Linked DNA regions of Homo sapiens: all the other regions are linked to region 1. Evidence: fine-mapped expression QTL. A gene starts in region 1. Each other region holds a variant in brackets. All regions are shown on one strand. Distances are from middle to middle.

Region 1 (10,543 bases):
GCCCGAAGGCTGGTGGCCAAAGGACAGGCACAGGAGAGGCAAAAACAGGGCAGATGGGGGAGGACAGAATGGAGCCCCCTCAGCAGATGGGGGAGAGAGGGAGAGAGACAAGTAGGAGGACAAAAGACACCCCTGGAGACCAGAAAGAGCTGCGGAGGGCAGGTTGGGGCCGGGGGTGGTGGGGCCGGGTGGTGTTCCCCAGAGACCCTTCTGCCAGCTTCTTCCCCCTCCCCCATCAGAGTACTTGGGGCCAGAACAGGGAGAGAATGAGGGAGAGAAAACTCACCTCGACAGGTTTCCCACATGACTTCAGGAGTCCCTAAAACCCCCAACCAAGAACAAAACAAAACAGTAAATGACTAACACCTACTCCCCTCCAGCCCCTTCCCTTTCCCAAAAGGCCCCAGCAGCAAGACAAATGGAAGTCAGACTCCAGGGTGGACTGCCCACCAAGCTTCAAGAGAGGAACAGAGCCCAAGGGGCATGTGGATCGACTCAGGGCAGGGGTGAGTTACTAGATCCAGAGAGGGCGAGAGGGTCACACAGCACTTCCCTCCTCTAAAAAGGTATAAGCCATAAGCAAAGACATGGCTGCCAAACTGCCTGGGTTCGATGCCCAGCTCTGCTCCTTCTGAGCTGTGTGACACTGGGCAAGGGATTCAACCTCTCTGGGCCTCATTTTCCTCATGGGGAAAATGGAGCTCACACTAGCGCCTGCTTCGGAGGGTTTTGTGAGGGTTAAGTGAGTGAATACATGTAAAGCCATCACACCAGTGCCCGGCATCTAGTGAGCACTCAGTAAACACGTGAACTATTGCTATTATTTTTAGGGAGGTGCAAAGTGGGAGGCTGGGGGACACGTCCCCCCACCTACCTGGATTTTCCGGCTTCTCTCCTCTTCACTCTCTAACTCCAACAATTCATCAATGTTGATCTCATCGGGCATGTCTGCCTCCTAGGGCCAGGGAGGGAGGGGTGCTTAGGATCCCCTTCCCTCCCTCCCTCGCCTTTGTCCAGGGCTCTGCAGGAGCCCCACCGGCCCCAGGGCCCAGCTGGCGGGTTCTGGAGCATTAATGTGGCAGTCCGGGACAGCACTGCCAAGACGGGACATCTGGGTGTTGGGGGGGAGGGGTGACAGATGGGCTGAGAGAGCCCCGGGGCCCTGTACCAGCCCGATGCCTGGGCCCATGGGCCCCGGGAGCCTCGGGGCTGGCACGGGTCTCTCGCCTTGGCTCTAGTTCCCACAGAGGAAAACAGGCCTAGTGGAGTCCTGGAATGTCAGATTCTGGGATTCGGGAGAGGAGCTGGCTTCTGCCCTTTCAAGGAAAAGTCTTAGCACTAGGTGCAGGGGAGGAGAGGCTGGCAGCCAGCAGCCAGCTGGGGCGGCCCCTTCCCCCAGGGGACAGGAAGGGAGGGGACAGGAAGGGAGGGGACGGCTTGGGCCAGCCCCCAGAGGGCCAAAATGCAGCCTGGTGAGACCGAAGGGAGGACCACCGAGGCCCCTCAAGGTGGGTGGGTGGGATGAGTCATGGCTCAACTCAGCTGCTAAGAGCGGGGCGCTGAGTGTGGCCTCTACAGGCAGTGGCCCAAGCGCAGGCTGGCTCAGTACCCCTGCTGGGAATAGGACCCAGCTGTCCCCAGCTGTCGAGGGAGCAAGAGAGCCTTGGGGTTATGAATCCTTTCCTCCCCAACCCAAAGTCCGGCTGTCGGCTTCAGGCCTGGGGCTTCAGGGCTGGATGGTCCTGGTTCATGTGTGGTGAAGGGGCTTCAGCAAGGACACAGGTGTGTGAGTCTCTGCCAGGGCCACAGCCTGATGCCAAGGGCCTGGGGCTGGCCGAGGATGCAGAGGGACCTGGCATCGTGCAGTGGCTTCGTATAGTGGACTGTGGTCCTGCAGGTGTGAGGTGTGTGGCTCTGGCTTGGGTGTGTGACACATCAGCATGTGTCCACAGTCAGCTGTGGGGCCCACCACCTGAGAATGGCCTCATAGATGCCACCTGCCACTAGCAACCAGATTGGTTCACCTGTATGGGCCCAGGTGTGAGTCTGAGAACAGAGGGACTGCATGTCACCATGGGAGAAGGGCCATGCCTTCCACCATTGTCGCACCATGAAGAGGAGGACTCGTGGGTCCTGTGTACACTGTAGCATACAGAAGTCACAGAAGGCCAGGCGCAGTGGCTCACGCCTGTAATCCTGACATTTTGGGAGGCCGACAAGAGAGAATTGCTTGAGCCTAGGAGTTCAAGATCAGCCTGAGCAACATAGCGAGGCCCCATCTCTTTTTCTTTTTTCTTTTTTTTGAGACAAAGTCTCCTTCTGTCACCTAGGGTGGAGTACAATGGCGCGATCTTGGCTCACTGCAACCTCCGCCTCCCGGGTTCAAGTGATTCTCCTGCCTCAGCCTCCCAAGTAGCTGGGATTACAGCTGCCTGCCACCATGCCCGGCTAATTTTTGTAATTTTAGTAGAGACAGGGTTTCACCATGTTGGCCAGGCTAGTCTCGTACTCCTGACCTCAAGTGATCTGCCCACCTTGGCCTCCCAAAGTTCTGGGATTACAGGCGTGAGCCACTGTGCTCGGCCAATGAGGCCCCACCTCTAAGGAAAAGAAAAAAGAAGTCACTGAAAGTGTGACTTCAAGCAGAAACTCAAGTGATGAAGTACCTGTGTGTGTCAATACATGTAGCTGTGGCTTAGGCTCTTGTGTGCCTGTGAGCAGCGGTGGGTTCTGCAGTTGTATGTCCACCTGTTCCTATAGCTTACAGTTTTTTGTTTGTTTGTTTGTTTTTGAGACGGAGTTTCGCTCTTGTTGCCCAGGCTGGAGGGCAATGGCGGGATCTCGGCTCACCGCAACCTCCTCCTCCCGGGTTCAAGCGATTCTCCTCCCGAGTAGCTGGGATTACAGGCATGTGCCACCACACCCGGCTAATTTTGTATTTTTTAGTAGAGACGGGATTTCTCCATGTTGATCAGGCTGGTCTCAAACTCCTGACCTCAGGTGATCCGCCCGCCTCGGCCTCCCAAAGTGCTGGGATTACAGGCGTGAGCCACCGTGCCCGGTGCTTACACAGTTTTATGTCTGGGTGTAGTTATAAATTCTGTTGGGTTTTGTTTGTTTTTGAGACACGGTCTCGCTCTGTTGCCCAGGCTGGAGTGCAGTGGTGCAATCTTGGCTCACTGTGACCTTGGCCTCTCAGGCTCAAGCAATCCTCCCACCTCAGCCTCCTGAGGAGCTGAGATTACAAGTGCGTGCATGCCACCACGCCCGGCTAAGTTTTAAGATTTTTGGTAGAGACAGGTTTTCCCCATGTTGCCCAGGCTGGTGTTGAACTCCTGACGTCAAGCAATCCTCCTGCCCCGGCCTCACAAAATGCGTGAGCCACTGTGCTGGGCCAATTTCTGTTGTTTTATGTCTTTGAGTGGCTGCGGATCAGCGCTTGTGCTTGAAGGTGGTCAGTTTTTTCTTTAGGAGATAAGGAAGGGCCGTAACTTGAGTCATTTTGTGTTCCAGTGGGGTTGTGCTGTGTCTGCCTACGGCTGTGGCCCATGCCGCTGTGTCTGCGGGTGGCTGTGACTGTAGCATATGTTGAACTGTAGGTGACCCCCCCCCAGCCCCCGCTTGTGTCCTTGTGGGTTTGTGCATGGCTGTTACTTCTGGGCTGTGTCCGTGAGTGGCTATAGCTTCCTTCACTGTGCACATCTGTGTCTGCTTTTGCTTCCTTTGCCGTGGGTCTCTGTGTGGCTGTATCTCCCCTGTCACCATGTCTGTGTTTGGCTTTATGACACCCCCCTTCCCCCACTCTTTCTCCAGACGTGGCGGTTTCAGCTCAACTTAGCCTCCTCCCTCCTCATGCTAAACCCCTGGCCCTCCACAGGCGTTTGGACACATCTCTGGAGACCCAAGTCTTTGTGTGTTGCTCTCGGTGTGTCCACAAGCACAATGCCATAGAGCACGGATGGCCAGGCCAATGAGTGCCCGGCCCTGGGGCGCTCGTCCTCTTGTGCAGACCAGGCTGGCCGTGCACCAGCGAGTGTGCACCGAGACCCCAAGGGCGTGGGGTCTCCGCGCCCGGGCTCTATCTGTCCCCGACCACCCCCGAGCCCTCCCCGGGCTCACCATGCCGCGGTACAGCTCCTCCAGGCGCCCGTCGATCCACTTCTCCACGTCCAGCCGCCGCTGCAGCTCCCGCCGGTCATACTTGACGGTGACGCGCGCGTGCCGCTTCTGCAGCCCCCCGGGACTGCCCCCTGGCCCGCGGGCCCGCGATGGAGACTGCAGCTTGCTCAGCACGCGCTTGCCCAGCCGCTGAGCTGCCATCGCGCTGCTGGACCCAGCCTGGCCCCGCGCTGTGCGCCTTCGCCTCGCGCCCCGGGTGCTTCTTACGGGCCAGGGCGGGGCTAGCCGGGGGCGGGGGCTCGGGCTCGCCGGGAGGTCTGCCCCACCCCGGCCGCCTCAGGCCTCAGTTTCCCCGTCTGCAGTGCGAGAGTAGGCCGCTGCGTCGGCTTGAGGCACGCAGTCGTGCGAAGTTGAGGTATGGGCGGGGACCCAGAGTCCCGGGCGGGTCCCTGCATCGGGGGCTCCCGGGCCGGGATCCTGTGGGGCGGGGGCCTGGGACAGACACTCGGGACCCGGCCTGTCTGCGCCCTCTGGCGGTGGCGGGGTGGGGGGCTGTTGGTGCGGGAGCGCCTGCGCCGCTGTCGCTGTAGAAGGTCGAGCGGTCACTTGTTCCTTCGTTCATTCATTCACTCATCCATCCATTTGTTTGTTCACTCATTCCGTTCAACGAATTTTTTTTTTTTTGAGTCGATGTCTCTCTTTGTCGCCCAGGCTGGAGTACAATGGCGCGATCTCGGCTCACCGCAACGTCCGCCTCCCAGGTTCAAGCGATTCTCCTGCCTCAGCCTCCGAAGTAGCTGGGATTACAGGGATGCACCACAACACCCGGCTAATTTTTGTATTTTTAGTAGAGACGGGATTTCGCCATGTTGGCCAGGCTGGCCTCGAACTCCTGACCTCAAGTGATCTGCCTGCCTCCGCCTCCCAAAGTGCTGGGATTACAGGCGTGAGCCACCGCCACTGGCCCGGTTCAACGAATATCTATTAAGTATCCACTCTATACCAGACACTGCTTTACGCTCCAGGGATAGAGCAGGGAACAAAACAGACAAAACCAGTCCCACGCAGTTGACAGTTGTAGCCGGGATACATGAGAAACACAGTAAGTACGGTATTATACAGTTTATTATCATATAAGTGCTTTGGAGAAATATAAAGCAGAGAAGGAGAAATGGAGTGAGGGTAAGGTTGCAATTTTAGCGAGGGTGGCCAGGGAAGTCCCTTACTTCAAAACAGTCTTCTCACTTCTAATTATAAGCAGCAATAATTATACTCTAAAATTTAAATGTGGCTGGGCGCAGTGGCTCACTCCTGTAATCCCAGAACTTTGGGAGGCCAAGGAGGGTGGATCACGAGGTCAGGAGTTCAAGACCAGCCTGGCCAACATGGTGAAACTCCATCTCTACTAAAAATACAAAAATTAGCTGGGCCTGGTGGCACATGCCTGTAATCCCAGCTACTCGGAAGGCTGAGGCAGGAGAATCGCTTGAACCCGGGAGGTGGAGGTTGCAGTGAGCCAAGATAGCACCATTGCACTCCAGCCTGGGCAACAAGAGCGAGACTCTGTCTCAAAATAAATAAATAAATAAAATAATAATAAATAATTTTTTTAAAAAGGCCAGGCATGGTGGCTCATGCCTGTAATCCCAGCACTTTGAGAGGCCGAGGTGGGCAGATCACGAGGTCTGGAATTCAAGACCAGCCAGGCCAACATGATGAAACCCCATCTTTACTAAAAATACAAAAAAAAAAAAAAAAAAGCCAGGCGTAGTGGTGTGCACCTGTAATTGCAGCTACTGGGGAGGCTGAGGCAGGAAAATTGCTTGAACCCAGGAGGCAGAGATTGCGGTGAGCCAAGATCGCACCACTGCACTCCAGCCTGGGTGACAGAGCAAGACTCCATCTCAAAAAAAAAAAAAAAAATTGTAGAGACAGGGTCTCCCTATGTTGCCTAGGCTGTTCTCCAATTCCTGGGCTCAAGCGATCCTCCCACCTCGGCCTCCCAAGGTGCTGGGATTATAGGCATGAGCCACCTCACTCCACCAGCCAGCCATAATGTAAAACTTTTGAGTTTCAAAGAACATCATCAAGAAAGTGAAGAGACAACCCATGGAATGGGAGGAAAAAAATTGCAGTCATGAAACTCATAAGGTGCTGGGACGAGCCACCACACCTGGCCAAACTATACACTTTAAAAAGGTGAGTTGGGCCAGGCACAGTGACTCACGCCTGTAATCCCAGCACTTTGGGAGGGCAAGGCGGATGGATCATCGGAGGTCAAGAGTTAGAGACCAGCCTGGCCAACATGGTGAAACCCCATCTCCACTAAAAATACAAAAATTAGCTGGGCATGGGGGCACATGCCTATAATCCCAACTACTCAGGAGGCTGAGGCAGGAGAATCGCTTGAACCTGGGAGGGGGATGTTGCAGTGAGCTGAGATCATGCCATTGCACTCCATCCTGGGCAACAAAAGTGAAACTCCATCTCTAAATAAATAAAGGGTGAGTTGTATGGTATGTGAGTTATATCTCAATAAGACTGTGTTTTTTTTTTTTTTTTTTTTTTTTTTTGAGGCAGAATCTCGCTCTGTTGGCCAGGCTGGAGTGCACTGGCATGATCTCAGCTCACTGCAACCTCTGCCTCCCAGGCTCAAGCAATTCTCCTGCCTCAGCCTCCCGAGTAGCTGGGATTACAGGGGTGTGCCACCACGCCTGGCTAATTTTTGTATTTTTAGTAGAAACGGGGTTTCACCATGTTGGCCAGGCTGGTCTTGAACTCCTGACCTCAGGTAATCCACCTGCCTAGGCCTCCCAAAGTGCTGGGATTACAGGCGTGAGCCACCGTGCCCGGCTTCAATAAAGCTGTTTTATTTCAAAATTAAAAACAGGCCAGGCGCCATGGTTCACGTCTGTAATCCCAGCACTTTGGGAGGCTGAGGTGAGTGGATTATCTGAGGTCAGGAGTTTGAGACCAGCCTGACCAACATGGTGAACCCGTCTCTACTAAAAATGCAAAAAAAATTAGCCAAGCATGGTGGTGCACCCCTGTAATCCCAGCTACTCAGGAGGCTGAGGTGGGAGAATTGCTTGAACCTGGGAGGCGGAGGCTGCAGTGAGCTGAGATCGTGCCATCACACTCCAGCCTGGGCGACAGAGAAAGACCCCATCTCTAAAAAAACAAAAATAAAAAACAACTATCCATAGCTACCCATGACCTTCAGTCTAAAGGCCAAACTCTGGTTTAGCAGTCCCATCTCTGCCAGGGACAGTCCCATTTCAGCACCAGCACCTTTCACTCGCAGTTCCCTCTGCCAGGAAGGTTCTTCCCTAGAATATCATCAGGGCTCACTCCTTCACCTCCCTCCAATGTCACTGTTCAGTGAGGTCTTCCCTGGCCACGCTATTTCACACTGCAACTCTCGTGCCCCTCATCCAGCTCTGTTTGATACATAACACTTACCACTTTCTAACATTATATATATATATATATATATATATATTTTTTTTTTTTTTTTTTTTTTTTTTTTTTTTTTTTTGAGTTGGAGTCACCTCAGGCTGGAGTATAGTATTGTGATCATGGCTCACTGCAACCTCTGCCTCCTGGGTTCAAGAGATTCTCCTGCTTCAGCCTCCTGAGTAGCTGGGACTACAGTTATACACCACTGTGTCCGCTTACTTTTTATATTTTCAGTAGAGATGGGGTTTCACCATGTTGGTCAGGCTGGTCTCGAACTCCTGACCTCAGACGATCTGCCCGTCTTGACCTCCCAAAGTGCTGGAATTACAGGCATGAGCCACCATGCCTGGCCTCTAACATTATATATAATGTACTCATTTAATGTATTGTCCATGCCAGGCGTGGTGGCTCACACCTGTAATCTCAGCACTATAGGATGCTGAGGCAGGAGGAGCAATTACATCCAGGAGTTCAAGATCAGCTTGGGCAACATAGTGAGACCCTGTCGCTACAAAAAAAAAAAAAAAAAAAAAAAGCCAGGTGCAATAGTACATGCTTGTAGTCCCAGTTACTCTGGAGGCTGAGTTGGGAGGATCACTTGAGTCCAGGAGATGGAGGACGCAGTGAACTGTGATTGCACCACTGCACTCCAGCCTGGGTGATGGAGTGAGACCCTGTCTCAAAAAGAAAAATGTCATATTTTCTGTTCTGTGCAGTGACAGAAAAAAAAAATTATTGTCTGTTTCCCAACTAGTAGCATACTAAAGGCAGGGGGACAGGACTGGTCCACTTTGGGTACAGGCAAAAAGAGGGTGCACTGTCTGTAGAGAATTTAAAAATAAAAAGCTGACCAAGGCCGGGCATGGTGGCTCATGCCTGTAATCCCAGCACTTTGGGAGGCCAAGGCAGGCAGATCACCTGAGGTCAGGAGTTCAAGACCTGCCTGGCCAACATGGTGAAACCCCATCTCCATAAAAATACAAAAATTAGCCGGGTGTGGTGGTACAAGCCTGTAATCCCAGCTACTTGGGAGACTGAGGCAGGAGAATCGCTTGAACCCGGGAGGTGGAGGTTGCGATGAGCCAAGATCGTGCCATTGCACTGCAGCCTAGGCGACAGACAGAGTGAGACTCCATTTCAAAAAAACTGACCAAAAGTTGGTCTAATTTTTATTTTACTTTGCAGTGACATTTCTAAACAGTGTCAATGATAAAATAGTCCTCCCCAGGGAAGAAACAGAAACAAAAACCTTTTGGTGGTCTGCTTTCTAAACAATTGATGCAATATAAAAAAGGGGGAAAAAAACAATTGATGCAATTACTGTCGGTTTTTTTTTTGTTTTGTTTTTGTTTCATTTTTTGAGACGGAGTTTCGCTCTTGTTGCCCAGGCTGGAGTACAATGGCACTATCTCAGCTCACTGCAACCTCCACCTCCCAGGTTCAAGCGATTCTCCTGCCTCAGCCTCCTGAGTAGCGCGGATTACAGGCATCCGCCACCACGCCCGACTAATTTTGTATTTTTAGCAGACAGGATTTCTCCATGTTGGTCAGGATGGTCTTGAACTCCCGACCTCAGGTGATCCGCTCGCCTCGGCCTCCCAAAGTGCTGAGATTACAGGTGTGAGCCAACCACGCCTGGCCTACTGTCAAGGTTTTTTTTTTGGTGTTTTTTTTTTTTTTTTTTTTTTTTTTTTTGAGACAGAGTCTCGCTCTGTCACCCAGGCTGGAGGGCAGTGGTGCAGTCTCAGCTCACTGCAACCTCCGCCTCCCGGATTCAAGCTATTCTCCTGCCTCAGCCTCCCGAGTAGCTGGGACTACAGGCGCCCGCCACCGCGCCCGGCCTCTTTTTTTTTTTTTTTTTTTTTTTTTTTGAGAACGAGTCTCGCGCCGTCGCTCAGGCTGGAGTGCAGTGGCGCAATGTCGGCTCACTGCAAACTCCACCTCCCAGGTTCAAGCGATTCTCCTGCCTCAGCCTCCCAAGTAGCTGGGACTACATGCGCCCACCACCACGCCCGGCTAGTCTTTTGTACTTTTTTTCAGTAGAGACGGGGTTTCACCGTGTTAGCCCAGATGGTCTCCATCTGCTGACCTCGTGATCCGCCCACCTCAGCCTTCTAAAATGCTGAGATTACAGGCATAAGCCACCGCACCCGGCCCTTCTTTTTTTTTTTTTTTTTTTTGAGACGAAGTCTCACACTGTCGCCCGGGCTGGTGTGCAGTGGGGCGATCTCGGCTCGCCGCAGCCTCCACCTCCCGGGTTCAAGCGATTCTCCTGCCTCAGCCTCTCCAGTGGCTGGGACTACAGGCGCGCGCCACCACGCCCGGCTAATTTTTGTATTTCTAGTAGAGACAGGGTTTCACTATGTTGGCCAGGCTGGTCTCAAATTCCTGACCTCGTGATCCGCCCACCTCGGCCTCCCAAAGTGCTGGGGATTACAGGCGTGAGCCACCTCTTTTTAATGAACTCTGAAGGATGATAAAGGCCAAGGGACAAACATTCCAAGCATCAGGAATGTTGATGCTTGGAATGTTTCTCAGGACAGATATGGAGATGCCCAGGCCTCCCAAAGTGCTGGGGATTACAGGCGTGTGAGCCCGGCCTCTTTTTTTTTTTTTTTTTTTTGAGAACGACTCTCGCGCTGTTGCTCAGGCTGGAGTACAGTGGCACAATATTGGCTCACTGCAAACCCCGCCTGCCGGGTTCAAGAGATTCTCCTGCCTCAGCCTCCCGAGTAGCTGGGACTACATGCTCCCGCCACCACGCCCGGCTAATCTTTTTGATTTTTTCACCGTGTTAGCCAAGATGGTCTTGATCTGCTGACCTCGTGATCCACCCGCCTTGGCCTCCCAAAGTGCTGGGATTACAGGCATGAGCCACTGCGCTCAGCCCTCCTTTTGAGTTTTTGTGTTTAAAGTTCAAAACTGGACAGATGCAGTGGCTCACGCCTGTAATCCCAGCACTTTG
Region 2 (10,543 bases), 110 kb after region 1:
ACAAACAAGACCAGGTAGGCGGAGCGGATTGGGAGCCGGGAAAGGGGCGGCGCCCGGACACCCCTCACCGTGCCCCACCCCCGGCGCTGACTCTGCCCCGCGCATCCGGTACCCCAGGATTACTACTTCTTCTTGGCGAGCAATTGGCGAAGCGCGGGCGGCGTGTCCATAGAAATGGACAGCTACGAAAAGATCTACAACCTCGAGTCCGCGTACGAGCTGCCGGAGCGCATTTTCCTGGACAAGGGCACTGAGTACAGCTTCGCCATCTTCCTGTCGGCGCAGGGCCACTCGTTCCGGACGCAGTCAGAACTCGGTCTGCGCGGGACCAGAGTGGAGCCCGAAGGGCGGGGCGAGGGCTACCAGAATCTGGGAGCCTGGGGGGCGGGGACACCATCGGAGGGGCGGGGCCTGTCTGTGAGGGAGGCCTTAACCCCGTTTACTGCCCGGAGCAGGCACCGCCTTCCAGCTGCATAGCCAGGTGGACGTGGGCGTGGTGCTGGCCGACCCCGGCTGCATCGAGGCCTCGGTGAAGCAGGAGGTCCTGATTAATCGCAACTCGGTGCTATTTTCGGTGAGGCCCCCCGGGGAGTTGGGATCAAGGGAGGTTTTGTTTTTTTTTTTTTTTTTTTTTTTTGGAGACAGGGTCTTGCTCTGTCGCTCAGGCTGGAGTGCCAGTGGAGCGATCACTGCATTCTTGGCCTCCTGGGCTCAAGCGATCCTCCTCCCTCAACCTCCTGAGTAGCTGGGACTGCAGGCACGCACCACAGTGCCCAGTGAACTTTTTGTTTTTCTTTTGAGACGGAGTCTTGCTCAGTCGCCCAGGCTGGAGTGCAATGGCACGATCTCGGCTCACTGTAACCTCTGCCTCCCAGATTCAACCGAGTCTCCTGCCTCAGCCTCCCTAGTAGCTGAGATTACAGGTGCATGCCACTACACCCAGCTAATTTTTTGTATTATTAGTAGCGATGGGGTTTTACCATGTTGGCCAGGCTAGTCTTGAACTCCTGACCTCAAATAATCTGCCCACTTTGGCCTCCCAAAGTGCTGGGATTACAAGCGTGAGCCACTGCACCCAGCCTTAACTTTTTATTTTTTGTAGAGACGGGGGTCTCCCTATGTTGCCCAGGCTGGCCTCGAATTCCTGGACTCAAGAGATCCTCATGCCTCGGCGTGAGGTGTGAGGTGTGAGGCATGAACCACCCTGTGCTTGGCCCCGTTAGCCTATTCCTTTTTTTTTTTTTTTTTTTTATTGATCATTCTTGGGTGTTTCTAGGACAATAGTGGAGGGAAGGTCAGCAGATAAACAAGTGAACAAAGGTCTCTGGTTTTCCTAGGCAGAGGACCCTGGGGCCTTCCGCAGTGTTTGTGTCCCTGGGTACTTGAGATTAGGGAGTGGTGATGACTCTTAACGAGCATGCTGCCTTCAAGCATCTGTTTAACAAAGCACATCTTGCACCGCCCTTAATCCATTTAACCCTGAGTGGACACAGCACATGTTTCAGAGAGCACAGGGTTGGGGGTAAGGTCACAGATCAACAGGATCCCAAGGCAGAAGAATTTTTCCCAGTACAAAACAAAATGAAAAGTCTCCCATGTCTACTTCTTTCTACACAGACACGGCAACCATCCGATTTCTCAATCTTTTCCCCACCCTTCCCCGCTTTCCACTCCACAAAACCGCCATTGTCATCATGGCCCGTTCTCAATGAGCTGTTGGGCATACCTCCCAGACGGGGTGGTGGCCGGGCAGAGGGGCTCCCCACTTCCCAGCAGGGGCGGCCGGGCAGAGGTGCCCCTCACCTCCCGGACGGGGCAGCTGGCCGGGCGGGGGGCTGACCCCCCCACCTCCCTCCCGGACGGGGCGGCTGGCCTGGCGGGGGCTGACCCCCACCTCCCTCCAGGACGGGGTGGCTGCCGGGCGGAGACGCTCCTCACTTCCCAGACAGGGTGGCTGCCGGGCGGAGGGGCTCCTCATTTCTCAGACGGGGCGGTTGCCAGGCGGAGGGTCTCCTCACTTCTCAGACAGGGCGGCTGGGCAGAGACGCTCCTCACCTCCCAGATGGGGTCGCGACCGGACAGAGGCGCTCCTCACATCCCAGACGGGGCAGCGGGGCAGAGGCACTCCCCACATCTCAGACGATGGGCGGCCGGGCAGAGACGCTCCTCACTTTCCAGAGTGGGCAGCCAGGCAGAGGGGCTCCTCACGTCCCAGACGATGGGCAGCCAGGCAGAGACACTCCTCACTTCCCAGACGGGGTGGCGGCCGGGCAGAGGCTGCACTCTTGGCACTTTGGGAGGCCAAGGCAGGCGGCTGGGAGGCGGAGGTTGTAGCAAGCCGAGATCACGCCACTGCACTCCAGCCTGGACACCATTGAGCACTGAGTGAACCAGACTCCGTCTGCAATCCCGGCACCTCGGGAGGCCGAGGCTGGCGGATCACTCGCGGTTAGGAGCTGGAGACCAGCCCGGCCAACACCCCGTTAGCCTATTCCTGAGTAGAAAATGGCAGCCTTCCGTTTTCCTACCAGCCACCACCTCGCCCCAGCTATGGGTTATTTGAACTGTTTGTTGGACTTTGGGGAGACCTGTTCACCCCTTCATTTCTGCCTCTCCCCTCCTTCAACCCCAGATTACGCTCAAGGATAAAAAGCTTTGCTATGACCAAGGCATTAGTGGACATCACCTTATGGAGACTTCCATGACGGTCAATGTGAGGTCCAAGCCTGGAGGGGAGGGTGCAGGATGGTGGGAAAGCCTGGGCCGGCGGGGATCACCATCTTCACCTGCTCCTACCCACAGGTGGTGGGTTCATCCGGGCTCTGCTTCCAGGAAACACACCTGGGGCCCCATATGCAAGTATTGGAGCTTGGGATACTGGGCCCTGGGAGGGGAAGGTTGGGGTCGGGTCTCAACAGGGCTAATCCCCCTGAGAATCCCACTAATGCATTCATAATTTCCTTTCTTCTCATTCTTTCTCAACATTCATCCACCCACCCACTACCACCCACTAACTCCTTTCATTCTTTTTTCTTTAAGACGGAGTTTCACTCTTGTTGCCCAGGCTGGAGTGCGGCGGCGCGGTCTTGGCTCACTTTGCCTCCTTGGCTCAAGTGATTCTCCTGCCTCAGCCTCCCAAGTAGCTGGGATTATAGGCGCCCGCCACCACGGCTGGCTAATTTTTTGTATTTTTAGTGGAGACAGAGTTTTTCCATGTTGGCCAGGATGGTCACAAACTCCTAAACTCAAATGATCCACCCGCCTCAGCCTCCCAAAGTGCTGGGATTCCAGGTGTGAGCCACCATGCCCGGCCTAACTCCTTTCATTCATTCACGTTTTCAGAAAGGGCCACCTTCCCAGTTGTGCAGGTTGCACACAAACTGGTATGTTCCCTCTGATAACTTTTCTTCAGAGGGAGAATAGAGTGAGCAACAGGGCCGTTTTTTTTTTGTTTTTTGTTTTTTTTTTAACGATGTCTCACTCTTGTCCCCCAGGCTGGAGTGCAATGGTGCAATCTCGGCTCACTGCAACCTCCACCTCCCGGGTTCAAGCGATTCTCCTGCCTCAGCCTCCCAAGTAGCTGGGATTACAGTTGCATACCACCATGCCTAGCTAATTTTTTATATTTTAAATAGAGACGGAGTTTCACCATGTTGGCCAGGCTGGTCTTGAACTCCTAACCTCAGGTGATCTGCCGGCCTTGGCCTCCCAAAGTGCTGGGATTACAGGTGTGAGCCACCGTGCCCGACCTAGGGCCACTTTTTGCAATTGGCACAAAGGTGGCATAAGGGCTGGCCTGGCCCTGCTTTCACATCTCTCTCTTCTTCTGCCCACTCACACATTCCTCATTCAGTTCTTTGGGTGCTTGGTGCTTCACTTGCTTATACACGTGATATCGCCTTTGCCCGGGGCAGACACTGAGGCTCAGAGAGGTGCAGAGTAACCCAGGGAGCTAATAAGTGGTAGAGGAGGGGCGTGCCCCAGAGTTCTTGTTCTCACCCATTTCCCTACCCACTCCCTGGCATGCAGATCCTGGTGTTCCTCCCTCCTGGCTTAGAATGACCTTGGGCAGTCAAAAGGGGTTGTAACAGCCCCCACCTCCTTAGAGTACATGAGATTTCATGTGCTAGACTGAATAAACAAGGAGGAAGTGTGATTGCATCAGGGTGGGCAAGGGGGAACGTGGTGGGATGAGCTCGGAGCAGTGATGGGGCAGAGTAAGCGGAGCCCTTATGGGCCATGGTATGTGAGCTGGCTCCTCGGGAGGGCTCTAAGCAGAGGAGGGACTCGGGTGTCCCCAGGGCCCATCTGGCTGCATGGGGTGGGGGGACATCAATGAGGGGACTGGAAGCAGGGAGACTCTGGAAGAGACAAGGTTGGACAAAACAGGGTGGGGGCAAAGGAGTTGGAGGTTTAGGGGAGAGAACAGGCAGGCTCTCGGTCTTTTTTTTTTTTTTTTTGAGACAGAGTCCTGCTCTGTCACCCAGGCTGGAGTGCAGTGGTGCAGTCTTGGCCTCTACCTCCCTGGTTCAAGCGATTCTCCAGCCTCTGCCTCCCGAGTAGCTGGGATTACAGGCATGCACCACCACACACCCAGCTAATTTTTTGTATTTTTAGTAGAGACAGGGTTTT[A/G]CTGTGCTGGCCAGGCTAGTCTCGAACTCCTGGACTCAAGTGATCAGCCCGCCTCGGCCTCCCGAAGTTCTGGGATTACAGGCATGAGCCACTGCACCAGGCCGTGTTAATGATATTAATGACCATATTGCCCTTGGGGGTGAGGGAGAGCCAGGCAGCTGGTGGTGGTGTTTGTGGGAGGGGGACTGTCCTTCCTGCCCCTTACCCCTCCAGGGGCCTGAGGAGACCCTGGCCACCCCTGTGAGCCTTTTTTCCTCCCACCGAGGGCAACCTGATGGTGCCAGTGTTCATTGGCTGCCCCCCAGGCAAGCGCCTGGCCTTCGACATCACCTACACGCTGGAATACAGCCGCCTGAAGAACAAACACTACTTTGACTGCGTTAACGTGAACCCGGAGATGCCCTGCTTTCTCTTCCGGGACAGTGTGTGTCCAGTCCCTTCCCCTGCACAGTTCACTGCCCTCTTGCCCCCACTACTTTGTGCTCTCCCTCCCCATTCCTCTCCCCGCAGACTACCCACCCTTTTTCCTGCGGCATCTCACTTTCCCCCGTCTCGGTCCTCAGCTTCTCGGGCCAAGCTAATTTCTTCTTCTGGTCTCAATCCCCTCCAACCCCATAGTTTTCTACCCCTTCTTCTTGATTCAAGATTTGGTGACAGGAGACTCCGGCAGTTTCCAGGGCAGGTAAAGGCGTGGCCAGCTTGCAGCTAGGGCAGGTGGAGGGAGTGGAAGGAGATGGGTGCAGGACTCGAGACCCGGAGGCCAGTCTGTGTGCACTTCTGTCCCTGGTAGCTATGTTCTGCTGGTGGTGGGTGGCGGGCCCACACTGGACAGCCTCAAGGACTACAGTGAGGACGAAATCTACCGCTTCAACAGCCCCCTGGACAAGTAATCCCCGTGGGGTCCCACGTGTAATCCACCTTGCTTCCCCTGGAGGCCTTTCCCACTTCCAAGCCAAGCCCACCTCGCAAGCCCCCACCTCTGCGTCTCAGGCCCTGCCCACAGTGGGGCTCTTAGGATCTCACAGGCAAACTCCTGCCCGCCCCTAACACCATGTCCCCTGCACCCACCTGTGGCCTCCCTCCACACTGACCACTGAGGTCATACCTCCCCTACACCGCCCCCCAACCCCTGGCTGAGATGACCTGGGCCTGCACAGGACCAACAGCCTTATCTGGACCACGAGGACCACAAGGACCACCAAAGACTCAGCCTTTCACATCATGTCCCACGAGAGCCCAGGCATCGAGTGAGTGCGTAGCCTGGCCCCTCTTGGCCCCCATCTGTCGGTAGTCCATTGGGCCCACCTATCCTTTCTGCCCCTAGGAGGCCTCTTGATCCCCAAGTCACACTGACTGCCTTTGTGTTACTTAAATGGGGCTGAACTTTGCACAAGCTGAAGTCTCTGCCTGGAATGCTGCTCCCTCCGACTCTTTTCAGGCCTTAGGCAGATGCCCCTTCAGCCAGGAGGACTTTTCTGTTTCAAGATGGGACAATTGTCCCTTCATGGCTCCTATGGCCTCTTGGGGCTCTCCCATCCTGGCCCTGAGCCCCCTACCTGTGCGTCCCCATCCCAGAGTGGACAGCTCTGGGCAGTCACTGTCTGGTGTGGGGTCTGTCTCTCCTCCAGAACTGGGTCCTGAATAGACTCATAAATTTGTTTTTATTTTTGAGATGGAGTTTTGCTCTTTGTTGCCCAGGCTGGAATGCAGTGGCAAGATCTCAGCTCACTGCAACCTCCACCTTCCAGGTTCAAGCGATTCTCCTGTCTCAGCCTCCTGTTTATTTTTTGAGACAGGCTCCCTCTGTGGCCCACCAGGCTGGAGTGCAGTGGCACAATCTCAGCTCACTGCAGCCTCTGCCTCCTGGGTTCAAGCAATTCTCCTGCCTCAGCCTCCCAAGTAGCTGGGATTACAGGCACCCGCCACCATGCCTGGCTAATTTTTGTATTTTTAGTAGGGATGGGGTTTCACCACGTTGGTCAGGCTGATCTTGAACTCCTGACCTCAGGTGATCCGCCTGCCTCAGCCTCCCAAAGTACTGGGATTACAGGCACATGCCACCATGCCCGGTTAATTTTTGTATTTTTTTTTCTAGTAGAGACGGGGTTTCACCATGTTGGCCAGGCTGGTTAACATAGCATGTATTGAATGAAAGAATGAACAAATGAATAAATCAATTCGTGGCAGGCATTTATTGATATCTGAATGGGGGTATTAATGAATGAATAAAACAATGGAGAAACAAATTCATATATAGGGGCTCAGTAAGTTTCATTCAATGAAAGGAAAAAAATGAAGCCATGAGCAAATGAAGGCAGTGAATGAACGAACAACTTGCACCTAGTCAGAATTTAACCTGCTTTATTTTTTATTTTTATTTATTTTTTTGAGACAGAGTCTTGCTCCGTCACCCAGGCTGGAGTGCAGTAGTACAATCTCAGCTCACTGCAACCTCTGCCTCTTGGGTTCAAGTAATTCTCCCAACTCAGCCTCCTGTGTAGCTGGGATTACAGGTGCATGCCACCATGCCCCGCTAATTTTTGTATTTTTTGTAGAGACGGGGTTTCACCATATTGGTCAGTCTGGTCTTGAACTCCTGACCTCAAGTGATCCACCTGCCTCGGCCTCCCAAAGTGCTGGTATTATAGGTGTGAACCACTATGCCTGGCCTAACCTGCATTTATTGGATAATGAATAAAGAAGGGAATAAATGAAAGATGTGACTTTGTACCTAGTAAGTGCTCAAGCTATATTTATGGGATAAAGGAATGCAAGCAGCAAAGAATGAATAAGGATTTGGCATATGATAGATACACAGCCTGTAATCTGGATGGATGCACAGTGACAGAGGAATTGACAGATGGAGGTGTGAAGGCAGGAGGAAATGAATGAGTAGACAACCTGTGGCACAGTAGGCGTTCAGTCAGCATGAATGAATGAGTGAATGAAGGAATGAATGAGGGAAGGCATGAGATTGCACCCATTTGGTCCTCACCGAAAACATTGGGTGGAGGAAGAAATTGGGAGTTGGCACAGACTAGGCATGGTTGGTAGCACAACTGCCTGATCTTTGGCTTGCAGGTGGCTCTGTCTGGAGAATGCCCCATGCTATGACAATGTTCCCCAAGGCATCTTTGCCCCTGAATTCTTCTTCAAGGTGTTGGTGAGCAATAGGTGAGCCAGGCAAGTGGCCCAGGTGCGGGTCAGGGGCTGCCCATGGAATGCCTGGCTTCTCCTCTAATCCTGGATCCCCTCCCAACCCCTGCAGAGGAGTGGACACGAGCACCTACTGCAACTACCAGCTCACCTTCCTGCTGCACATCCACGGGCTGCCACTCAGTCCCAAGCGGGCCCTTTTCATCATCATGGTGAGTGGCTGTCCGGGAGCTGCCCTACTGGGTGGGCAGGGGCCCACGCCTCCATACCTATGCTTGTTATACCTTCGCTCATTCATTCCTTTATTCACTCATCTAGCCATGCTGACTGAACGCCTGCCATGCCACAGGCTGTCTACTCATTCATTTCCTCCTGCTGTCATGCCTCCATCTGTCAATTTCCCTGTCACTGTGGATGCAGATTGTGGACTGTGTACCTTATCATGTGCCAACTCCTTACTCATTCTTTGCTCCCTGCAGGTGTCAGCTAGCGTGTTTGTGGGCCTGGTGATCTTCTACATCGCCTTCTGCCTCCTGTGGCCCCTCGTGGTGAAGGGCTGCACGATGATCCGGTGGAAGATAAACAACCTCATTGCCTCAGAATCCTACTACACCTACGCCTCCATTTCCGGAATCTCGAGCATGCCGTCTCTGAGACATTCCAGGATGGGCTCCATGTTCAGCTCCAGGATGACAGAGGACAGGGCTGAACCCAAGGAAGCCGTGGAGAGACAGTTGATGACCTGAGTGTCCCACCTGCCCCAGCCCCCAGTTACTGTCACGCCTCTCTTATGAGGCCCATCTTGAAGATGCAACCTGTCACCCAGCCCAGGCCTCTCTTTCTGTTTTGCTTGATGTTTACTTCTCGTTCAGACTCAAATAAAGCCTTTTTTCAGGACCAGCAGTGGGCTCTCTTAAAAGCTCGAGTTCAGAAGGTTTGTACCAGCATAGCTGCACATTAAAATATCATAAACCTGGCTGGGCATGGTGGTTCATGCCGGTAATCCCAGCACTTCGGGAGATCGAAGGAGGCAGATCACTTAAGGTCAGGAGTTTGAGACCACCCTGGCCCACATGGTGAAAACTCGTAACCCTGTCTCTACTACAAATACAAAAAATTAGCTGGGCATGGTGGTGCGTACCTGTAATTCCAGCTACTTGGGAAGCTGAGACAGGATAATCCCTTGAACCTGGGAGGCAGAAGTTGCCGTGAGCCAAGATTGCGCCACTGCACTCCAGTCTGGGCAACAGACCAAGACTCCGACTCAACAAAACAAAACAATAAATAAAATATCAAAAACCTTCTAGGCCACCTGTTAAATAGTGGCTTCTCTGTGTGCCTGTTGGCTGAGCCTCTCCCCAGTGTACCCCAGACCTCCCTGTGGTCCAGCAGGATCCTCCACAATCCAGGCCCATTGCTATGGCCGACCATCTGTTCTGATTGTTCAGTGTTAAATATTCTGAATGTCAACACCTATCTAATGTCTTAAGGAGGGGACCCTGGAGACGTCAGGATTCTTATTTTAGTTGCAAGTAGCAAATATTTCCCTCAAATGGTCTACATGAAAATGGTAATTTACAGGCTTCAGGTACAGTTTGATCCAAAGTCCCAAGGTCCACAGGATTCAGCCTTCATTTCTCTGTAGTTTTTTCTTCTCTGTCCTCCTCAGAGTGCAGTCTCTGACCTCAGGACAACTCCCCTCACCATCTGAGGCTAGTTATACAGTCCATAATCTGGATGGATGCGTAGTGACCAATGAATTGACAAGATGGAGGAATGAAGGCAGGAGGAAATAAATGAGTAAAAAAATACCCTGTTGCATGGTAGGCATTTGGTCAGCATTAATAGATGAATGAATGAAGGAGCGAATGAGGAAAGGTATGAGATTGCACCTAGTTGGTGCTCACCCAGAGTGTTGGGTTGGAGGAATACATTGGGGTTGGCATTGACTAGGCATGGTTGGTAGCACAAAAACCTGATGAAATTTGACAATAACAAGAGTTGGCAACACTCATGTGTGTAAGGGCTGCTGGCTAAGGTTGTTTCCACCACCAAGATTCTACCGAGTCACCTCATGGTCCAGGTGAACACATCATAATCCTGTATCAGCCAAGTCAACATGTTATTTAAATATCACCATCTGCACTTCCAGCCAAGATAGAGTGACAGAGACTGGATTTCCCCTCATACTTGAAACTATTTATGTTTTTTGAGATGGAGTCTCGCTCTGTTACCCAGGCTGGAGTGCAGTGGTGTGATCTCGGCTCACTGCAACCTCCGCCTCCTGGGTTCGAGCGATTCTCCTGCCTCAGCCTCCTGAGTAGCTGGGACTACAGACGCATGCCACTATGCCCGGCTAATTTTTTGTATTTTTAGTAGAGACGGGGTTTCACTGTGTTAGCCAGACTGGTCTCCATCTCCTGACCTCGTGATCTGCCCGCCTCAGCCTCCCGAAGTGCTGGGATTACAGGCATGAGCCACCTGGCCTGGCCATATCAACGTGGTATTTTGTTTATTTGTGTCTTTTTCTTTTTTTTTTTGAGATGGAGTTTTGCTCGTTGCCTAGGCTGGAGTGCAATGGTGCGATCTTGGCTCACTGCAACCTCCACCTCCCAAGTTCAAGTGATTCTCCTGCCTCAGCCTCCCGAGTGAGTAACTGGGATTGCAGGCACCCGCCACCATACCTGGATAGATAATTTTTTGTATAGTAGAGACGGAGTTTCACCATGTTGGCTAGGCTGGTCTCAAACTCCTG
Region 3 (10,543 bases), 32 kb before region 1:
ACATGGTAAAACCTCATCTCTACTTAAAAAAAAAAAAATACAAAAATTAGCCGGGTGTAGGGGCACATGCCTGTAATCCCAGCTACTCAGGAGGTTGAGGCAGAGAATCACTTGAACCCGGGATGCGGAGGTTGCAGTGAGCCGAGATCGTGCCACTGCACTCCAAACTGGGTGAAAAAAAAAAAGAAAGGAAGAAGGAAGGAAGGAGGGAAAGAAAAGAAAAAGAAAGAGAGAGAAAGAAAGAAAGAAGGAAGGAAAGAAAGAAAGAAAGGAAGGAAGGAAAGAAAAGAAAAAGAGAGAGAGAGAAAGAAAGAGAAAGAAAGAAAGAAAGAGAAAGAAAGAAAGAGGCCGGGTGCGGTGGCTCACGCCTGTAATCCCAGCACTTTGGGAGGCCGAGGCGGGCAGATCATGAGGTCAGGAGATCGAGACCATCCTGGCTAACACGGTGAAACCCCGTCTCTACTAAAAATACAAAAAATTAGCTGGGCGTAGTGGCAGGCGCCTGTAGTCCCAGCTACTCGGGAGGCTGAGGCAGGAGAATGGCGTGAACCCAGGAGGCGGAGCTTGCAGTGAGATCGCGCCACTGCACTCCAGCCTGGGCGACAGAGCAAGACTCCGTCTCAAAAAAAAAAAAGAAAAAGAAAAAGAAAAAAGAAAAAAAGAAAGAAACAATTAGCCCTCCAGATACACCTAGACCCTGGGGAAGACACAGCCAGATGAGATGCTTGGACACATAGCGGGGAGATACCGACATACTCAGGGAGAATCACTCAGCTAGATACACACAAACACACACAGGAGACAGACAGGAAGAGACACAGCCAGGTGGGCACTGCCACGCTCCTGGGTACACACAGACCCTCGGACTCAGGAAGAGAAACTGACCCCGAGGATCCCGATATTCCTAAACACATTCAAGGGTAAGTCCAGATCCTCTGATGGACTGGCACACACGTGCAGAAATACACCTGATACGCCAGACACCATCAGGAAGATTCTCCCAGACACTCCGAGGCACCCACACACCCACAGAAAGAGACGGCCGCACCGCCTAACACACCCAGACACACTCGGGAGGAGCCGGACACCCTGACAGACCAGACATACACAAGACACAAGCCTTCTAAGACACTTGGAGACACCTGGGAAGATACACCTAAGAGAGGAAAGAGCTCCAACCAGACACTGAGACATCCAGACGCCCTTGGGGAGATACAGAGGCAGACACCCTCAGGCACCCACAGAAAAAAATACAGGCAGATGGCCGGGCATGGTGACTCAAGCCTGTAATCCCAGCACTCTGGGAGGCCAAGGCAGGTGGATCACCTGAGGTCAGGAGTTCGAGACCAGCCTGGCCAACATGGTGAAACCCTGTCTCTACTAAAAATACAAAAAAATTAGCCGGGCATGTCAGTGTGCATCTGTAATCCCAGCTACTCAGGAGGCTGAGACAGGAGAATCGCTTGAACCCACTAGGCGGAGGTTGCAGTGAGCTGAGATTGCGCCACTGTACTCCAGCCTGGGTGACAGAGCCAGACTCCATCTCAAAAAAAAAAAAAATACAGGCAGACTGATCCATCCCAGTTCCCAGGGGAAGGGACACAGTCAGCAACTCCATACACCCACACACACCTAACAGATATCACTATGCCCTCCAATACCACTGGGACCCTTGGTGGGGCATGGTGGTTCACGCCTATAATCCCTGCACTTTGGAGGGCTGAGACAGGAGGATCCCTTGAGCTCAGGAGTTCAAGACCAGACTGGGCAACATAGTAACACCCTGCCTCTATTTAAAAAACAACAGGCCAGGCGCGGTGGCTCACACCTGTAATCCCAGCACTTTGGGAGGCCGAGGTGGCCAGATCACCTGAGGTCAGGAGTTCCAGACCAGCCTGACCAACATGGTGAAACCCCGTTTCTACTAAAAATACAAAATCAGCCGGGCATGGTGGCGCATGCCTGTAATCCCAGCTACTCGGAAGGCTGAGGCAGAATCGCTTGAACCTGCTAGGCGGAAGTTGCGGGTTCAAGGTTCAACTCCCCGCTAGGTGGAGGTTGGGGGATCACGCCATTGCACGCCAGCCTGGGTGAAACTCTGTCTCAAAAATAAATAAATAAATAAATAAATAAATAAATAACAACAACTGGGCACCTGGGCCCATGTAGGAGGAGATGCAGTCGCCACTCAGTGACTCAGAGAAACTGTGGAATCTCTGGGAAACACCCGGGACGCACATGGGCAGACAGACACACAGCCAGCCAGGCAGACACTTGCTAGAAGGCGATAAAGGTGATGGACGAGTGCTAGGACACACAGCAGGCGCTGGGACACCGATGGGGGCCCCAGCGGCTGCACCCACCGATCTTGTACTCGCAGGGCCTGAGTCTGGGGTCCTCCAGGATGTTGAGTCTCCGTTTCTTCCTCCAACAGCGGGCGGGGTACGTGTAAATCTGTCCCGGGGCCAAACCTGGAGAGAGAGGGGGGTGAGAGGGCGGCGGCGGTGGGGCGGCCTGGCCCCGCCCCGCCCTGCGCCAGCCCTCCCGGCGGTACCCGGCCCGCGGTGGGTCTTCTCCATCCAGATGTAGCAGTTGTTCTGGGCCACGCCGGTCTGCGAGTCGAGGAAGGGCAGTCGCAGGCTGCGCTCGGCGCACAGGCGCGCGTTGTAACTGCGGCAGTGCTCGATGGCCTCGCGGTAGAAGTCCTCGCCTAGGCTAGAGGGGCGGCGAACGGGCGGGCGGCTGTCAGCAAGGGCAGGCGCACAGGGTCGCCCAGCACCCCTTCCCCGGCTGCCGGGCCGCCCAGGCTCGGGAGGGGTGGGCCGACCCCTCCAGCCTCACCTCTCCCCTCCTCCCACTCCGGGACCCAGGCTGGGGGAAGGGGACAGGGCCCAGGGGCCCCCAAACTGGGACTCAAACAGGCCCCCAGCTCATGAGTAGAAACACGATACAGAAACAAACAAAAACACACCGGGACGTATCCCTACCTGAACACATGCAGACACACAACACAAATCACACACAGTCACACGGGATTCACACACAAAGAGAGACAAATCCCAATACTCACAAAGGAGAAACAGACAAACCTCACACACGTGCACACATAAATATCTACTGAAAAAGACAAATATCCCAAGTTCCATAGTGTGGAGACAAATCACACAAATAACCATGCACAAAGACACATCACATATCCACAGACACACACCAGAAACACATCACCCACACAAAGACACACAACATGGAAACATCACACCACACACACATACACCCCCTCATGCATCCAAAGACACAAGCATGTCAAAAGACAGGAACTACAGAAACCACTTGC[G/C]CCCCTAGGCACTTACCCATGTATCCAAAGACACAACACAAACCACACACACAATATCCAGACACACAACACAAAGAAATCACACAGATTCACACAGGTACACACACACATTTACAAAGATGCACGATGCGCAACCAGTATCTAAAATATCACACATCCACACAGACACACACACATATAAAACACAGAAACAGCCAAATCCACCCATAGTCACACAAAAATTTACACACAAATACACGCAGCCCTACATACCCAAAAACACAGAACACAAGACAAATGACATATAGTTCCAAAGGACACGGACACACACTGGGAGACCCAAATATCCAAAGATATCTAGTGCAGAATAAAAGGAAACAGACACATGTCCACACACCTATCCCCCAAAAATTCTTAAAAAAACCAGAACACAAATAAGTGATACACACACACACTCCACATCCCAAGACAAAGGTAGTGTGGACTTCACTCCAGTTGCCAAGGCCCCCGCACCCCCGGGTCATTTCAGTCTCTCCCAGACCCGAGGGTTGCAGGGAAGGGATGATGTCTCCCTTCCCCAAAAAGAATCTGGAGGCCCCCCACGCCCTCCACCCCGCCAGGGAGCGGTGCATCCGACACCATTCTTGTCAGAGACCCACAGTCACACACTCTCGCACCCCCGCGCAGCCCCGCACTCGGTGACAGCCCCCCAGACACCCCTTCGGCCCCACCCCCGGTCGCCACACACACACAGGCCCGCGTAGACCCGCCCGCGCTTCCTCTCCGCCTCCCGCCGGCCCGCACCACCTCAGGGGGCCAGGGATGACAGTGGCCATCTTGCTCCCCGGGTCCTGCCCCCAGCAGGTCCCCGCCGGGTCGGTCCTCCCAGCGGTCGGGCGGGCGCTGAGGCCGCCCATCCATTCATTCCCGGGGGGCGGGAGCACGAGGGCCACGGCCAATCGCGGCGACGGGGCGGGCCCGCCCGGGCCATGCTGGGAGTGGTAGTCCCAGGCCAGGGGGCCCCCGGGACCCCGCGGGGACGGGACGGCGCGGAGGAGGGGCCCGGGGCACGCACCGTCACTCACCCGCCCTCACTCGTCCACATATCCTGCTCTCGCGTGCACACAACCACATGCACACCTGGACTCGCACACGCCCACGCATGGCAGTTTACACACACATTCACGCGGATACTCACAGCCTCCCACACACTCCTACTCACACACCTTCGCACGGACTCACACAGCCACACGCACACACACTGCAATACTAAGAGACGCAGAGACACCTCCCAGGTGCCCACACAGACTTCTCACCAACATGCTTCCAGCAGACACCCCCTCACCGCCCCCCACCCAAGTCCCTCCTGGCTCCAGAGACCCCACCCGGGGCTGTCTCTCCCAGCAGCCACGCTCACGGTCACCCCGCCCTGCTCAACGCCTTCTGCAGGCCTGACAGCAGCAGTGCAGGTTAGAAACAGTAGTCACACCTCCAGGGTTCAAATCCTAGCTCTGCCACTTGGTGGCCATGTGACCTTGGCAAATGACTTAACCTTTCTGGGCCTCAGTTTCCTCATCTGTAAAAAGAGGATGATGCCTCACTGGAGTGTTGTGAGGATTAAATGAGTAAATATAGGTAAAGCATTTTAAGAGGTGACTGGCAGGCCAGGCGCAGTGGCTCACACCTGTAATCCCGGCACTTTGGGAGGCCCAGGCAGGTGGATCACCTGAGGATGGGAGTTCGAGACCAGCCTGGCCAACATGGTAGTAGTCTCTACTAAAAATACAAAATTAGCCGGGCATGGTGGCGCATGCTTATACTCCCCCACTCAGGAGGCTGAGGCAGGAGAATCACTTGAACTCAGGAGGTGGAGGTTGCAGTGAGCTGAGATCGTGCCATTGCACTCCAGCCTGGGCAACAAGAGTGAGACTCCCTCTCAAAAATAAATAAATAAATAATAAGAAAGAAAGAATAATGCGGCCAGGTGCGATGGCTCCAGTCTGCAATCCCAGTACTTCGGGAGGCCTAGATGAGAGCACTGCTTGAGCCCAGGAGTTTGAGACCAACCTGGGCAACATATCCAGACCCCTGTGTCTACAAAAAAAAATTAAAATTAGCTGGGCATGATGGCGCAGCAGTGTAGTCCCAGCTACTTGCAAGGCTAAAGTGGGAGGATAGCTTGAACCTGGGAGGCTGAGGCTGCAGTGAGCTGTGGTCTCACCACTGCACTCCAGCCTGGGTGGCAGAGCGAGACTCTGTCTCTAAAAGCAAACAAACAAACAAACAAACAAACAAAAAACTAAGTAAGCAGGGCGCCGTGACTCATGCCTGTAATCCCAGCAATCTGGGAGGCTGAGATGAGAGGACCGCTTGAGCTCAGGAGAACAGCCTGGGCAACATAGCGAGACCTGGTCTCTACTAAAAAAAAAATAAATAGCTGGGCATGGTGGCACATGCCTATGGTCCCAGCTACTCAGGAGGCTGAGTCAGGAGGATTGGTTGAACCCAGGAGATCGAAGCTGCAGTGAGCTATGATCACACCACTACACTCCAGCCTGGACAACTGAGCAAGACCCTGTCTCCAAAAAAAAAAAAAAAAATAGATGCTCAGTAGATATTTGTTGAATGAGTAAATGCACCCATCATGTGCTGGGCACAGTTCACCCCGGGATGCTTTTATTATCTGCATTTTCCAGGTGAGGAATCTGAGGCACAGGAAGGTAACCTCACATGCCCGCATGCCCTGGCGGCTCTTTGAAGGTAAGACTGAAGGAAGGAGGCAGGCACCCCTGACGGCCCTCCCCAAGTAGTCCTGACCTCCTTCTCTCTCCCACTGTCACCCACACTGACTCCACCCGAAGAGATCCCCAGGGAGTGAGCAGACCCACTGAGTCACAAACTGACCCAGTCTCTCTGCAACACCACCACCCCGTCCCCCCTCCCGTCTCACCCCTCCTCCCCCTTTCCCCTTCCCACCCCTTCTCCCCCTTTCCCCTTCCCCTCTTCCACCCGGACCCCTGTAGAGCCAGCATTCAAATTTGGGCGGCTGCTGTAATTAACACGCCCACAAACGCCCTCATCCACCAGGGGGCGCCCCAGCCGACAGAAGTGGCCCGCTAGCCTTCACCATTTTTGTCACTTGAAATCCCCCCAAGAGAGAGATCCAGTCAAGGCCTCCTACACTCACGGTCACTTCTACACACACACACACACACACACACACACACACACACTCCTCTAGTCTTAGACCCTTTCCACAAACTCGCCCATCTAAGCCAGGTAAGGTCTTGGCCGGCCCCTCTCCTGGAACAGGAGGTAGGTCTCTGATTCACATATGGCCTGGAGTGGTGACAAGGGGATTAAGTGAGGGGCACTGACACCCCTACGATCACTCTGGCCTCCAGGGCCCTATAGTGGCCACCTCACACCTTACCCACGGTGAGCTGTGACCCCACCTTCCTCTCTCACCTCCCATTAGCTCACAGGTCCCGTAACACACCCTCTTACACTTGATTCCCACACCGCTAGCCTCAGACACGCAGACTCACTCCTGCCCCACCCCAAACTCTCATGTCGATTTGATTAAGAGAAGCCCGAGTGTAGACACTGAGTGCAGACCTTCCTAACAGTCCTCCTCTACCAGCAGAATTTCTATTTTTCTTTCTTTTCTTTTCTTCTTTTATTTCTCTTCCTTCCTTCCTTCCTTCCTTCCTTCCTTCCTTCCTTCCTTTCTTTCTTTCTTTCTTTTCTTCTCTTTCTTTCCTCTTTCTCTTTTTCTCTTTTTTTTTTTTGGACAGCGTCTCACTCGATGGCCCAGGCTGGAGTGCCATGGCATGAACACAGCTCGCTGCAGCCTCCACCTCCCAGGCTCAAGCGATCCTCCCACCTCAAACCCCCAAGTAGCTGGGACTACAGGCCTGTGCCACCGCACCCGGCTAATTTTTGTATTTTTGTAAAAACAGGGTGTCCCTGTGTTGGCCAGGCTAGTCTCAAACTCCTAAGCTCAAGTGATCTGCCCACCCTGCCCTCCCAAAGTGCTGAGATTACAGGCATAAGCCACCATGCCCGGCCCACCAGCAGGATATCTACCCACAGACGCAGGCTGACACTTGCAGCGGGCTCTCCTTTCTTTCCTTCTGCCCTAACCACCTGCACACACCACTCCCACATACTCTCCTACACACTTGAACTCCCAGTCCTCTCCCTGGCCCAAACAATCCTCCTGCCCCATCCCCCAATGCCCTGTGTGGGAGCTGGCCCACAGTAGAAATCAATTTCATAAATCAATATTGATACTACTAATAATAATCACTACATTTGGTCAGTGTCAGTCTCTGTGCTAACTGCTTTACAAAGATGGCCTTAGCCCCACGACAGTCCCATCGGGTGGTAAGGGCTGTTAGAAGCCCCCATACACAGATGGCAAAACTGAGGCTCACGGCAGGGAACATTCGTGGCTCAAGCTGGTTTTGGAACTCAGGCAGTCGGAACTTCCGAGGGCGGCACCCTGCAGCTCCTTCTCCCCAGGGGATTTGACTCACATTCTTTCAGGAGCCAGGGAGTCCCCACCTTCACCCCCACAGAGACCTTTTGGAAGGGAAGGGCACAGAGGGGTAGGGCCCTCCCAGTCCAGGCTTACTGTAGCTGGGCCCCTGCTCACGGCTGTAGCACACCTCCTCCCAGGGGTCTGGGCCAGGGTCAGGGTGAGGGGCCCCATCGCCTGTAGATCCACCAACCTGCACAAGAGCCCCGTTCCCAGCCATTTTGCGGATGTCCCCTCACAGGAGAGACAGCTGTCTGTGTGTGCCACTTAGGGTGAGAGGGCAGCAGAGGGGTGTCACCATCATACACCACCTCACACGGACCCGAGCCCCACACACCCGCTCCCGGCACCCTGCTCACGGCGAAGCCACACGTGTAGGCGCTTGCCTCTAAGTCCCTGCCCCCCTTCCTCTCCCAACTCCCACCCTCCACCTCCCACCCCCATTCCCGCCAGAAACCAGAAGCAACTGGCGGCCTCTGGTCCAGCCAGCAGGCGCATCCCTTCTCGTGGGTGGGGTAGGGGGGCGCTCCCTCTCTCCCTCTCTCCCCCCACCCCCCACCCCCGCCCCCAGCCCTCGATGTTCAAGGTCAAGGCAGCCAGCGCACGGGGTTGGGGGAAGGGTGGGGGAGGTCGCCCCGGCCCCTTTGTGCGACGCCGCGGGCGCTCGCCCTCCGCCTCCTCCACCAGGCCCGGGAGGAGGGGGAGGGGAGCGCCTCGCTCGCCTGCGGGGAGGGAGGGCGGGAGCGGCCGAGTGCCTGTCACTTGGAGCCCGCTGTCACCGCCTGGGAACGGGGGGTGGGGAGCGCTGGGACGTGGAGTCCGGGATCCCGAAGAGGAAGCAAGAGCGAGATGGAGAGGGGGAAGGGGAGGTGTGGAGAGCGCGAGGGATGGCAAGGAGAGGAGAGGGTCAGGAGGGGCCAGGCTCGGACCCAGGCTTCCGGATTCCCAGCCACCGGGCCCGGGAAGAGGCGAACGCTCGGAGGACCGCGGCCAGGGAGAAAGGGAGGGAATCCCCGGAGACCGAGGGCGCTCCCGGCACCCCCTCCTGGGCAGCCGGTCCCCAAAGGGATCAGAGATGCTCCCGTTTGATGTGTATGCGCGGGGAGAGGGAGGGATGCCGCGGTCCAGACTGACGGCGGGTTCGGGGCTTCCAGTTCCCGGGATCCCGGGAGGAAAAAGGGGAGGCAGCGGGGATGGAACTGGGGACCCCCGACGTCTCAGCTCCCACCCTGCGGCCGCGAGGGCCGGGGTCCTCAGAGAAAGAAGGGGAAAGAGAGAAAGGCGCTTTGATGAGCGGAGAGCGGGTGATGGAAACCCTGGAGACCGAGGTCCGGACTTAGGTGTTCGAGCTTTCAGCCCCGGCCGGGGCAGGCCCGGCACCTCCGGAGACCCTGAGGGAGAGATGGAGGAGAGGGAAACCCCTACCCCCACTCTGGGTGGGGAAACGGCCTCCGCCACCCCCAGCCCGCGCCGCATTCCTTCACTGACAGCGACAAAGAAGAGGCGCCCCCGCGACCCTGGAGGGGCTCCCGCCCCCAACCCCAGGGGGCGACAGGGGGTGGGGACCCCCGGGGCAAGGGTTCGCGCTGGGGGCCCCCATTCAACTACGGTCCGCGCGCTGCGTCCCCCTCCTCAGCCCCAGGGCGGGCGGGGGAAGGGCTCCTGGTGGGGGGGTCTGGACAGGGGGCGGGGACGGCAGGGACACTCACGACTTGAGCGGGTTCTGAATGGCGGTGGCCATGGCCCGCTCGGCTGGGCCGCCTCCGGCCCGGGGCGCCGCTGCCGCCGCGCGCGGGCCCAGCCCGGCCTGCGCCGCCCGCTCTGCCGCCCAGCGCGCTACGATTTCATTCATTCTTGGGGCTGCGGCGCGAGCGGAGCGGGGCGGGCCGGGGGCGGGGCTCAGCCAATCCCCGCGCCTCCCAGCGCACGACGGGACGTGGAGTCTAGGGGCGCGCGGCGGCGCCCGAGGGCGCCCCTGCCCGGACTACACGTCCCAGGGGGCGTCAGGAGGACCGCGCTCCCATTGGCTGCTGGGGATACAGGGAGGGGCGGGGCTCCCCCCAGAGCATCTTTCCTCCCTCCCTGGGAGTGCTCGGTCTCCAACTCGGGATCTCCACCCTCCAGGCACCGCGGGCGCGGAAGCAGGTGGTCCCTAGCTTCTAGATGTCCCCAGGGTATGTGGATGACCCTAGGGTCTGTCGTGTATTCTTGTCTAGGCCTATTTGGGTGTCTCTTCTATGTCGGACAGCCTGTGAACAAGCACAGGGGTTAATCAGTGCCTTTGTTCATTTACTGAGTGCCTGCTGTGTTCCAGGAACTCTTCTAGGCACTGGGGATACAGCAATGACCAAAACAAAGTTGCCGCTCTCAAGGAGCTGACATTCTAGTGGAGAAAGACAGATAATAAGAAAATAAATAGATAAAATCATTTCAGACAGTGAAAGGTGCTATAAAGAAAAGAAAATGGGGCCAGTCGTGGTTGCTCATCACTTTGGGAGGCCTGTAATCCCATCACTTTGGGAGGCCAAGGCAGGTGGATCATCTGAGCTTAGGAGTTCAAGACCAATATGGGCAACATGGCGAAACCCCGTCTCTACCCAAAATACAAAAAATTAGCTGGGTGTGGTGGTGCATGCCTGTAGTCCCAGCTACTCAGGAAGCTGAGGTGGGAGGATCACTTGAGCCTG

The links. PIP is the estimated chance that this variant, and not a neighbour inherited with it, causes the effect.
Region 2: its variant is fine-mapped to the expression of PPP1R14A in whole blood (TOPMed, PIP above 0.99).
Region 3: its variant is fine-mapped to the expression of PPP1R14A in whole blood (TOPMed, PIP above 0.99).

Annotation. Positions count from the first base shown.
Region 1 is chr19:38,252,020-38,262,562 of GRCh38, forward strand. PPP1R14A (protein phosphatase 1 regulatory inhibitor subunit 14A) reads right to left here and starts at 4,355. Exons shown (of 4, transcript NM_033256.3): 1 at 4,120-4,355; 2 at 875-955; 3 at 287-319. The coding sequence starts at 4,320. RefSeq lists a silencer at 4,147-4,334 and enhancers at 9,170-10,107, 10,108-10,543.
Region 2 is chr19:38,362,259-38,372,801 of GRCh38, forward strand. CATSPERG (catsper channel auxiliary subunit gamma) reads left to right here. Exons shown (of 29, transcript NM_021185.5): 18 at 1-14; 19 at 118-316; 20 at 456-574; 21 at 2,633-2,713; 22 at 2,803-2,859; 23 at 4,898-5,054; 24 at 5,251-5,314; 25 at 5,423-5,518; 26 at 5,790-5,879; 27 at 7,714-7,806; 28 at 7,901-8,000; 29 at 8,268-8,685. The coding sequence ends at 8,534. Among named protein-coding and RNA genes, the nearest start is that of PSMD8, 7.0 kb to the right of the region's middle. RefSeq lists an enhancer at 1-668 and a silencer at 401-480. The variant A/G (reference allele first, on the strand shown) is at 4,633.
Region 3 is chr19:38,219,994-38,230,536 of GRCh38, forward strand. DPF1 (double PHD fingers 1) reads right to left here and starts at 4,229. Exons shown (of 12, transcript NM_001135155.3): 1 at 4,121-4,229; 2 at 2,555-2,715; 3 at 2,364-2,471. The coding sequence starts at 4,149. RefSeq lists silencers at 3,994-4,563, 9,607-9,986 and an enhancer at 7,486-8,256. The variant G/C (reference allele first, on the strand shown) is at 3,335.